Homo sapiens: one gene and its partner. The protein of the gene in region 2 interacts with the protein of the main gene of each other region in a biochemical or structural test. Each region holds a gene or a part of one and is shown on either strand. Other genes may lie near its edges.

What was found. Proteins that work in one complex are often made in the same cells at the same time.
Region 1: the proteins of SYK (region 2) and ERBB2 form a complex in vitro, tested with the Homo sapiens proteins (2 studies listed by BioGRID and IntAct, with this or other methods).

The regions. Positions count from the first base shown.
Region 1 is NC_000017.11:39,717,064-39,721,513, forward strand, and holds part of ERBB2 (receptor tyrosine-protein kinase erbB-2 isoform a precursor), read left to right. Parts: intron 1-3; coding exon of another isoform or gene 4-105; intron 106-256; coding exon 257-417; coding exon of another isoform or gene 418-421; exon of another isoform or gene 422-594; intron 595-2,723; coding exon 2,724-2,771; intron 2,772-4,450. UniProt on the Homo sapiens protein: Protein tyrosine kinase that is part of several cell surface receptor complexes, but that apparently needs a coreceptor for ligand binding. Essential component of a neuregulin-receptor complex, although neuregulins do not interact with it alone.
Region 2 is NC_000009.12:90,842,178-90,847,577, forward strand, and holds part of SYK (tyrosine-protein kinase SYK), read left to right. Parts: intron 1-1,680; 5' UTR 1,681-1,721; coding exon 1,722-2,138; intron 2,139-3,256; coding exon 3,257-3,417; intron 3,418-5,400. UniProt on the Homo sapiens protein: Non-receptor tyrosine kinase which mediates signal transduction downstream of a variety of transmembrane receptors including classical immunoreceptors like the B-cell receptor (BCR).

The DNA.
Region 1 (4,450 bases), on a different chromosome or scaffold from region 2:
TAGGTAATGCGTTTTCCTCTCTGGGTGCCTCCCATTTTCTGGCTCAAGTCCCTGCCCAGGATCAAGCTTGGAGGAGGGCCCCGAGGGAGGGGCCACAGAGACTGGGTGAAGAGCAAGGGTGTTTGTCCCAGGAGCATGGCGAAAATTGCTGCTGGGTGGCCTTGGGAAGCACAAAGGGGACCCAACTAAGGGCCTGATCCTACTGCCCTGGGGGTGTCAGTGCCAGCCCCCCACAAATCTTTTCTGCCCCCCCCAGGAGGCTGACCAGTGTGTGGCCTGTGCCCACTATAAGGACCCTCCCTTCTGCGTGGCCCGCTGCCCCAGCGGTGTGAAACCTGACCTCTCCTACATGCCCATCTGGAAGTTTCCAGATGAGGAGGGCGCATGCCAGCCTTGCCCCATCAACTGCACCCACTCGTGAGTCCAACGGTCTTTTCTGCAGAAAGGAGGACTTTCCTTTCAGGGGTCTTTCTGGGGCTCTTACTATAAAAGGGGACCAACTCTCCCTTTGTCATATCTTGTTTCTGATGACAAAAATAACACATTGTTAAAATTGTAAAATTAAAACATGAAATATAAATTAATGCCCTAGCAGTTCTATCCCCACTGTTAATAATTTGAAATATTTTTCCTCTAGTTATTTTTGTCTGTGCACATTCTAATATGTATATATAAGTTAACATATATTAATATTATTCTCCAGTTATTTTTATCTGTGCACATTTTAACACACACACACACACACACACACACACACATATGTATTTTTAGACGGAGTTTCACTCTGTCGCCCAGGCTGGAGTGCAGTAGTACAATCTTGGCTCACTGCAGCCTCCACCTCCTGGGTTTAAGCAATTCTCCTGCTTCCGCCTCCTGAGTAGCTGGGATTACGGGAACGTGCTACCTTGCCTGGCTAATTTTTGTATTTTTAGTACATAGGATTTCACCATGTTGGCCAGGCTGGTCTCGAACCCCTGACCTCAGGTGATCTGCCAGCCTCGGTCCCCCAAAGTGTTGGGATTACAGCGGTGAGCCACCATGCCCAGTCATATATTTCTTTTTAACAAATAGAATCATAGATCATACATATTGTTTGCAAATTGCTTTTTCTCACTTTCCAGAACCTTGAAATGTTTTTCCATGTTCTAACATGGTGATCTACCTTATTCTTTTAATTTTTCTTATTTAGTTGTCTTTACACATGAAACACATGAATACATCCTTGTGATAAACATTTTCAGTAACATAAAAGTATAAATGTTACAAAGCCAACGTGCCCTTTCACTCAACTCCCTGTCCACCCAGTCTCTCCTGTCTGCTGGGAGAACCACCGCATTGACTTGTGTGTTCACCCTTCCAGGCTCTTTTCTGCACACTTATATAGACATACTACATTTATATTAGGTCGAGTCAAATAAGATTGCTGTTTGTGTAAACCAAAAAGTGTCAAGAGCCTGGGCGCAGTGACTCACACCTGTAATCCCAGCACTTTGGGAGGCTGAGGCAGGCAGATCACTTGAGATCAGGAGTTCGAGACCAATCTGGCCAACATAGCGAGACCCCGTCTCTACTAAAAATACAAAAACTAGCCAGGTGTGGTGATGCTGTTCTGCACTTTGCTTTCCCCCCGACTTGAGGTATCCTTTCTTGTGAGTACAGACGGATCTACCACCTTTATTTTTTTTTTAATTACTCAACCTGTAACATGGATGTAATTTCACTTTGTTTTTGAGGGATATTGAGCTTGTTTCCCTGTTTTTGCAGTTTATTGCAATTGAGCTCCACACACAAGTGAGCCCTCTTTTGTATGCCCCCTAGTGGGAATACAGTGCTGGCAATGTTTATCACAAGGATATATTCATGCATTTCAATTTAAAGACAACTAAATGAGAAAAATTAAAAGAATATGGATCCAGGCTGGGCATGGTGGCTCACGCCTGTAATCCCAGCACTTTGGGAGGCCGAGGCAGGCAGATCACCTGAGGTCAGGAGTTCAAGACCAGCCTGGCCAACATGGCAAAACCCCGTCTCTACTAAAAATACAAAAATTAGCCAGGCGTGGTGGTGGGCGCCTGTAATCCCAGCTATTTGAGAGGTTGAGACAGGAGAATTGCTTGAACCTGGGCAGCGGAGGTTGCAGTGAGACGAGATTGCACCAGTGCACTCCAACCTGGGCAACACAGTGCAACTCCTTCTCAAGAAAAAAAAGAAAAAAAAAAAGAATATGGGTCCAGATCCATATGGATCCTAGATCCAGATCACGGTGTTAGAACATGGAAAAACATTGCAAGATTCTGCTAAGTGAAAAAAGCATTTGCAAACAGTATGTACAGTCTATATTCAGAGGAGGAACTGCTGGGTCATAGATGATATTTCATAGGTATTGCCAAACCGTTCTCTGGAGAAGTGGTATGGGTTTACCCTGGGATTCTTCTATGGAGGGAATAGTTGAGCTCCCGGGCTTGCTCTTCTGGGTGCCCCTCCCCGCTTCCTATCCACCACAAGGAGCTGCAGGGGAGCGGGGCATGCCGGTTCCTTGGCTGGAGAAGGAGTCTCCTTGTGAGGTGGTAGAAGGAGCACTGACGGCCTTGAGCCCAGTTTCTGCCTTTGTCAAATGGGGATAATGACCCAGCCACACCCCTCCCAGGGTTGTTGTGAGGCTGGAAAGGTGGTTCCCAAGAGGGTGGTTCCCAGAATTGTTGATGAGACTGTTTCTCCTGCAGCTGTGTGGACCTGGATGACAAGGGCTGCCCCGCCGAGCAGAGAGCCAGGTTGGCCTGGACCCCAGGATGTACCCTTCATTGCCCTTCACTCCCCCACTGGATGCTGGGTGGTCACTGCTGTAGGGAGGGGACCCCCTGACATATGTCCCTTCCCACCCACTCTTCCACTGTGGAACCTCCTGTCATTTTCCACTTCACCAAGTGACAGAGGACCTGCTCAGATGCTGAGGGGAGGGGACTGCAAGGAAAGATGGCTAGGAAACCCAGTCCCTCCACACCCTAGAGTAACTTGATGCCTTGTGAGGGACACAGGCAAAGTTCAATTCCTTGGAAGTCAAGGGAGACTGAGAAGAGTACAGCTGCAGCACTGAGGGAGTGATGAATTCTTAACTGGGGATGGTGGGAGGCTTCGAGTGGGAGGTGGCATTTGAGCTAGGCTTTGAGAGAGGAGCAGGTATTGCACTTGCATTTAGGTAGAAAGCATTGGGGTGCAAGGTGACACTGGAGGGGGAGGCATCAGGAAATCCAGGATGTCTTCAAAGTTCTGGTGTCGGGGGCTGTTGAGTAAGCACAGGAATAAGGGGGTCAAGTTAGAGTCAGGGTGGGGTCTGACCTGGATGCCATAGGACCTGATCCCCAAGCCACAGGGTGGGACTTGACTGGGCAGTGGGGACCTTTGGAAAGGACTTTGGGGAGAAAAACAGACTGGAGTCTGTCTTAGGCGATCATCGGTCCGTGAAATGAGCATGTGTTACAGGCTTGGTATGTACCAGACCCTGTGCTAAGCAAGGGGGTATGGAGAGGAGAGGGTGACAAGAATATTGGATCAACACCCGGGAGCTCCATCTATCCCAGGATGCACTATCTTTTTTTTATTTTTTTGAGACGGAGTCTCACTCTGCCTGCAGGCTGGAGTGCAGTGGCTCCATCTCGGTTCACTGCAACCTCTGCCTCCTGGGTTCAAGCGCTTCTTGTGCCTCAGCCTCCCAAGTAGCTGGGATTACAGGCACATGCCACCACACCCAGCTAATTTTTGTATTTTTAGTAGAGACGGGGTTTCACCATGTTGGCCAGGATGGTCTCGATCTCTTGACCTCAAGATCCGCCCACCTTGGCCTCCCAAAGTGCTGGGATTACAGACATGAGCCACCGTGCCCAGCCAGATACGCTATCTTTTTATTGAGTGATTGAGACAGGGTCTTGCTCTCTTGTCCAGTCTTGAATGTGGTGGTGTAATCACAGGCTCACTGCAGCCTTGACCTCCTGGGCTCAAGTTACCCTTCTGCAGTAGCTGGGACTATAGGAGCGTGCCACCACGCCTGGGTAATTTAAAAAATTTTTTTTGTATAGACAGGGTCTCACTATGTTGCCCGAGCTGGTCTCAAACTCGTGGGCTCAAGTGATCCTCCAGTTTTGGCCTCCCAAAATGTTGGGATCACAGGAGTGAGCCACCACTCCTGGCGATGAGCCAAGTCTTTTTTTTTTTTTTTTTTTTTTGATATGGAGTCTTGCTCTGTTGCCCAGGCTGGAGTGCAATGACACGATCTTGGCTCACTGCAACCTCTGCCTCCCAGGTTCAAGCAGTTCAAGCAATCCTCCTGTCTCAGCCCCCCAGTAGCTGGGATTACAGGCATGCGCTACCACGTCCGGCTAATTTTTGTATTTTTAGTAGAGATGAGGTTTTGCCATGTTGGCCAGGCTGGTCTTGAACTGCTGACCTCAGGTGA
Region 2 (5,400 bases):
TGGTGTGTATGTAGTTTGTGTGTGTGGTGTGTGTGTGATGTGCATAGTGTGCGTGTAGTGCATGGTGTGTGTGTAGTGCAGCTGTGGCATGTGTTCGTAGTGTGTGTGGCATGCATGTAGTGTCCATGTGGTATGGAGTGTGTGTGTGTGGTGTAGTGTATGTGATGTGTGTGGTGTGTGGTGTACCGTATGTGATGTGTGTAGTGCGCATGTAGTCATGTGGTGTGTTTCATGTGTGTTTTGTGTGTATGTAACGTAGAATTTGGTGTGTGCGGTGTGTTTCATGTGTGTGGTGTGTATGTAGTTTGTGTGTATGTGTATGTGTGTGGGGTAGTGTGTGTGATGTGTGTTGTGTGCATGCAGTGGTGTGTTTCATGTCTGTTTTGTGTGTGTAGCATGTATGTAGTGTAGCATGTGATGTGTGTAGTGTGTTTCGTGTGTGTGGTATGTATGTAGTTTGTGTGTTTGGTGTGTGTGATGTGCATAGTGTGCATGTAGTACATGGTGTGTGTGTAGTGCAGGTGTGGCATGTGTTCATAGTGTGTGTGGCATGCATGTAGTGTGCATGTGGTATGGAGAGAGTGTGTGTGTGTGTGTGTGTGTGTGTGTGTGTGTGTGTGTACCATGAGGGACATGCGCTTTGCTCCCTGGATAAATGGATGGAGTCATGTAGATAATTTTCCATTCACGACCAGCCCCTTTTGGTTAAAATGTGCCTCCTTGGATACTTTTGGGGCTGGCAATATGTATCCTTCTAGTTTACAACCATGATTGAGAGGGAATACTCTCCATGTTAAATATGCATTGGCCGCCTTTCTTTTTGCTTCTGAAATGTATTTATTTACTGCAAGCAGTGTCTCTCCTGTGTCAGATGTCCTCGTGGGCTGGGAACCGGCACTATCTCTTTAGCACGGGCCCTGCAGATGGGAAGTGGCGTTGCCCAGGAAGTGGTCTGGAGAAGCGGGGAGAAGACAGCCTATGGGCCCCAGGCCTCGGGAGCCAGGGAGGGTGTCACTCTTCATGTCTCAGGCAGTGGCTTGTTGCTATCATAGCCCCGGGCTGGAGGTGGGAAGGCCTTATGGTGACCACAAGTCACAGTTCCGTGTGGGCCCTCAACGTGGCCTCACTTCACCTCTGGGGCTCAGCACCAGCGTGTGACTGACTGCTCGAGGCAGCGTCTCGCAGCTCAGGTGGGTGAGGTGGTGGTAGCGTCCTCCTTGGTAATATCACTGTGATGAGGAGCAAGGCTTCTCTAACATTGTCTGGACTCAGGAGGAGCAGTTGGTTTGTTCTCATGTAGATTCTGCCTCCTGTATGCTGCTGGGACCCTGAGGGTCAGCCCAAGAGTCCTGTTTTGCAATAGCCCTTCTGTTTGCTTCTCTTTGCGGTATGTTTATTTTTAGAATTCTTTGTCTTTCCCCACTCCCCCCAAAAAAGAATTATTTAATTTGGTCACTTCCATCAAATGCTCTGATTTTAGCTTAGTTAGAAGGCATGCTGAAAACTGTAATGATGATGTGAACAGAAAGACAACTGTGTGTTGGGAGGGCCAAAGAGGGAAGTGCCTTTGTTCAGAGATGGGAGGGTTTGTCTCCACTTTGAAAGGGTTTGAGTGGTTTTAGCAAACGTTCCCTGCCACGTGGGGTCCTCACCAAAGTTCTCTGTCTCTGTCTTGCCCAGGTGGACACCTGCGCAGGTGTGTGCCCTCCGGCCCCTGAAGCATGGCCAGCAGCGGCATGGCTGACAGCGCCAACCACCTGCCCTTCTTTTTCGGCAACATCACCCGGGAGGAGGCAGAAGATTACCTGGTCCAGGGGGGCATGAGTGATGGGCTTTATTTGCTGCGCCAGAGCCGCAACTACCTGGGTGGCTTCGCCCTGTCCGTGGCCCACGGGAGGAAGGCACACCACTACACCATCGAGCGGGAGCTGAATGGCACCTACGCCATCGCCGGTGGCAGGACCCATGCCAGCCCCGCCGACCTCTGCCACTACCACTCCCAGGAGTCTGATGGCCTGGTCTGCCTCCTCAAGAAGCCCTTCAACCGGCCCCAAGGGGTGCAGCCCAAGACTGGGCCCTTTGAGGATTTGAAGGAAAACCTCATCAGGGAATATGTGAAGCAGACATGGAACCTGCAGGTGGGCCACAGCTGGTCCTGCTCCCTGGGCCCAGGGGGCCCTGTGACCCCACACAGACTTCCTGGCTACATGCAACACATGTGCCTATGTGCCCTGTGTGCCCAAATAACACAACCATCTCCTTAAGCATCAATTTTGGCCAAAAAATGCCTCTCTCTGATAAGAGCCTTTCCTCTTTCACAGCCACAGCTGAGAGGGTGGGTCCCTTTGTGCCAGCAGTGTGGGTTTCTCCACAGCAGGGAACCACTGTTACCCAGTGCAAGGAGGGCCTTTTCAGAGAGGCATTGATAGGTGTTGATTGGTTTCTGTTTATCTGACAAGGTCCTACCATACACACTGATAGGCACTTGATTTTATGGCTTCCTAATATCTCTTGCAGAACTTTCTGTGTCAACACTCATATAGTTGCATCACCCGTTCTTTGGCTATCTGGTATCACCTGCTATGCACCACAATTTATTTAACTAGTACCTATTGATGGACACATTTGCTGTTTATGAATAAACGCTGCTAACAACATTGCTCTAGACCTATCGTATACTACACTTGTATGCAACGTCTGCAGGATAAACTTTGAAAGGGTTGGGATTGCCACAGCAAAGGATATGTGTGTTTATTTTTTTATTTTTTATTTTTTTGAGACAGAGTCTTGCTCTGTCACCCAGGCTGGAGTGCAGTGGCATGATCTCAGCTCAATGCAACCTCTGGCTCCAAGGTTCAAGCGATTCTACTGCCTCAGCCTCCCAAGTAGCTGGGATTACAGGCATGTGCCACCACACCTGGCTAATTTTTGTATTTTTAGTAGAGATGGGGTTTCACCATGCTGGCCAGGCTGGTCTCGAACTCCTGACCTCAAGTGAACCATCCTCCTTGGCCTCCCAAAATACTGGGATTATAAGCGTGAGCCACCGTGCCCGGCCATGTTATTTTTATTTATACACTTGAAAGTACTTAAGTAATGTGTAAAGGTCTTTCTGGTTTTATTTACTGAATGAATGAGTGAATAAGTTTTGATCCTGTTTTACCATGCCAGGACTCGAGATAGATTGGAAATGCCTTCTGCATCATTTTCATTTTTCCTCGGTATGGTTTACTCTGCTTTGCTCTCCATGTGGCAGGGTCAGGCTCTGGAGCAGGCCATCATCAGTCAGAAGCCTCAGCTGGAGAAGCTGATCGCTACCACAGCCCATGAAAAAATGCCTTGGTTCCATGGAAAAATCTCTCGGGAAGAATCTGAGCAAATTGTCCTGATAGGATCAAAGACAAATGGAAAGTTCCTGTGAGTATCGTGCCTTCCCCCTCACCTCCTGCCACCAGGCCTGTGTGGACAATTGGGAATAATTCAGCTTCCTTGTGACTGGCCCCACATGACCCTGGGAAGAGGCCATGCATTGCCATTTGACAACATGCATGCTGGCCTGTTCTAAAGACATTTCTAACCAAAGCTATCACTTGTGACCCAGTGTTTATTTTGCCCAGTCTAACTCTAAAATGAACACTCTTTTTGGGCACCGAGGGATGTAATATTTAAAGAAAATGTGATTCAGCCCCATATTCTCCTTTTAATGGCAAATTATAGGTTGCATAGCACATTCTGTGGTTATCCAACTAAAATTAAAATACTGCAGTTTTTTTACTCAAACTACCCCCTTGATCTCAGACTTTACTTCTATTTTACATGAAACAAGATGCCAACAGGAAAGATGTTAAGGAAAAGTTCCTGGGAGTAGCATCCATGAGTGGTGAGTGCAGGTTTGAAGACTTCAGCCTTAGGCCCACAGTCATTAGAGGGTCTGTCTGAATCCTGGGTTCTGTTTGCTATCCTCAGTGGTTCAGTGTAAATCTAAATTGTAGAAGGTTCTGAGATACAGGCCAACGTGGTCAGTCAGTTGTCCAGAGAAGGTAAAGAACTGTCTTTGGGAGGTGTCAACCTTGTTCCCTCGAGGGGGTCTGGTCAAGGTGGCTCAGTGGGGCAGTTGTCCCTGGGGGAAATGATCCCCTGGTCACCTCTCAGTGTCCCTACAGAGATGCTTACCTTGGAAACATAACCAGAAACAGCGATGCAGCCTCATGGTTTGGCAATTGGTGAATCCCCAGCCGACTTCGTAAACTTTTCCTAGATTTAGAAGCGTTTTCTCTGCCTGTCCATCTATTCAAAGGAATTTCCTCAGACTTCACTGTCATACCTTGTATTTTAAAAATGATCTTAGCTGAGTGCAGTGGCACGCACCTGTAGTCCCAGCTACTCCTGGCAGGAGGATCGCTTCATCCTCACTATGATCTCACTATCGTTTGAGGCTAGTTTGAGACCAGCCTGGGCAACATAGTGAGGCCCTGTCTCAAAAAAAGAAAAAAAGAAAAGAAAAATTGACCACAATACTCTTAAAAAAAAAAAAAAAAAAGGAAGAAGGAAGAGTGGCCCAGGTTGCCACGCGGCAGTGCCTAGAGTGATGGTCTTTAGTGGGATGCAGCCCCAGCCAGCAGCAGAATGCTGTGGGGAGGGAAGACATTGCCCCTCAGTGGAGGCACCTATGGCTATTTTTGCTGAGGTTTGGCTTCTTACCATCTCAGCAATAATTTCCAACATGAATGTCATGGGACCATGCACATAGCATCTTGGCATGTGAAGTCAACCCAAAATAGCATAATCCACACGATGAGGCTGGCCAACTTCTGCTGGTTAAGAAGCCTGCTCATAGCCTCTTTGGCCACGAAGCTGTTTCTTTTTTCGGAGTTGTCTATTCCCGAAAACAGCAGTTGCATCCTTCATGGCCATGACTTTTGCTCTCTCCTTCCTTTCTGGGAGATGTATATAAACCCCATGCAGAAGGCTGGGAGGTGCAGCTCTTGTTTGATGAACATGCCTTGTTCCCTATCTGCCCTGTACAGACTGACATCTCATGTGTCCTCACAGCACATGTCCCTGACACTGAGGCTTATGGTTTATGCAAGAGAGTCTCAAACTTGCCGTGCTTCCTATTCAGCTGGTGTCAGAGCTAACCAGGCATGGGCCTGTGAGAGAGGGGCCTGGGCTTCTGTGTTTTCATCGAGCACCCTCTCCTTAGTTGTCTTCTTCTCCTGGGTTCTTATTCCTGGGTTCTTATTCTCCTGGGTTCTTATTCCACTTTATATTGCAGTTGTCCAGTTATCACCCCATAATTGCCAACCTCCCAGATAATAGCTTCCAAGGCTTTCTCCCTTGTGTTGTCCACAGCTCAGTCCCACACCTTCCCGTGCTCCCTCCACACCTGCAGGGCTCACC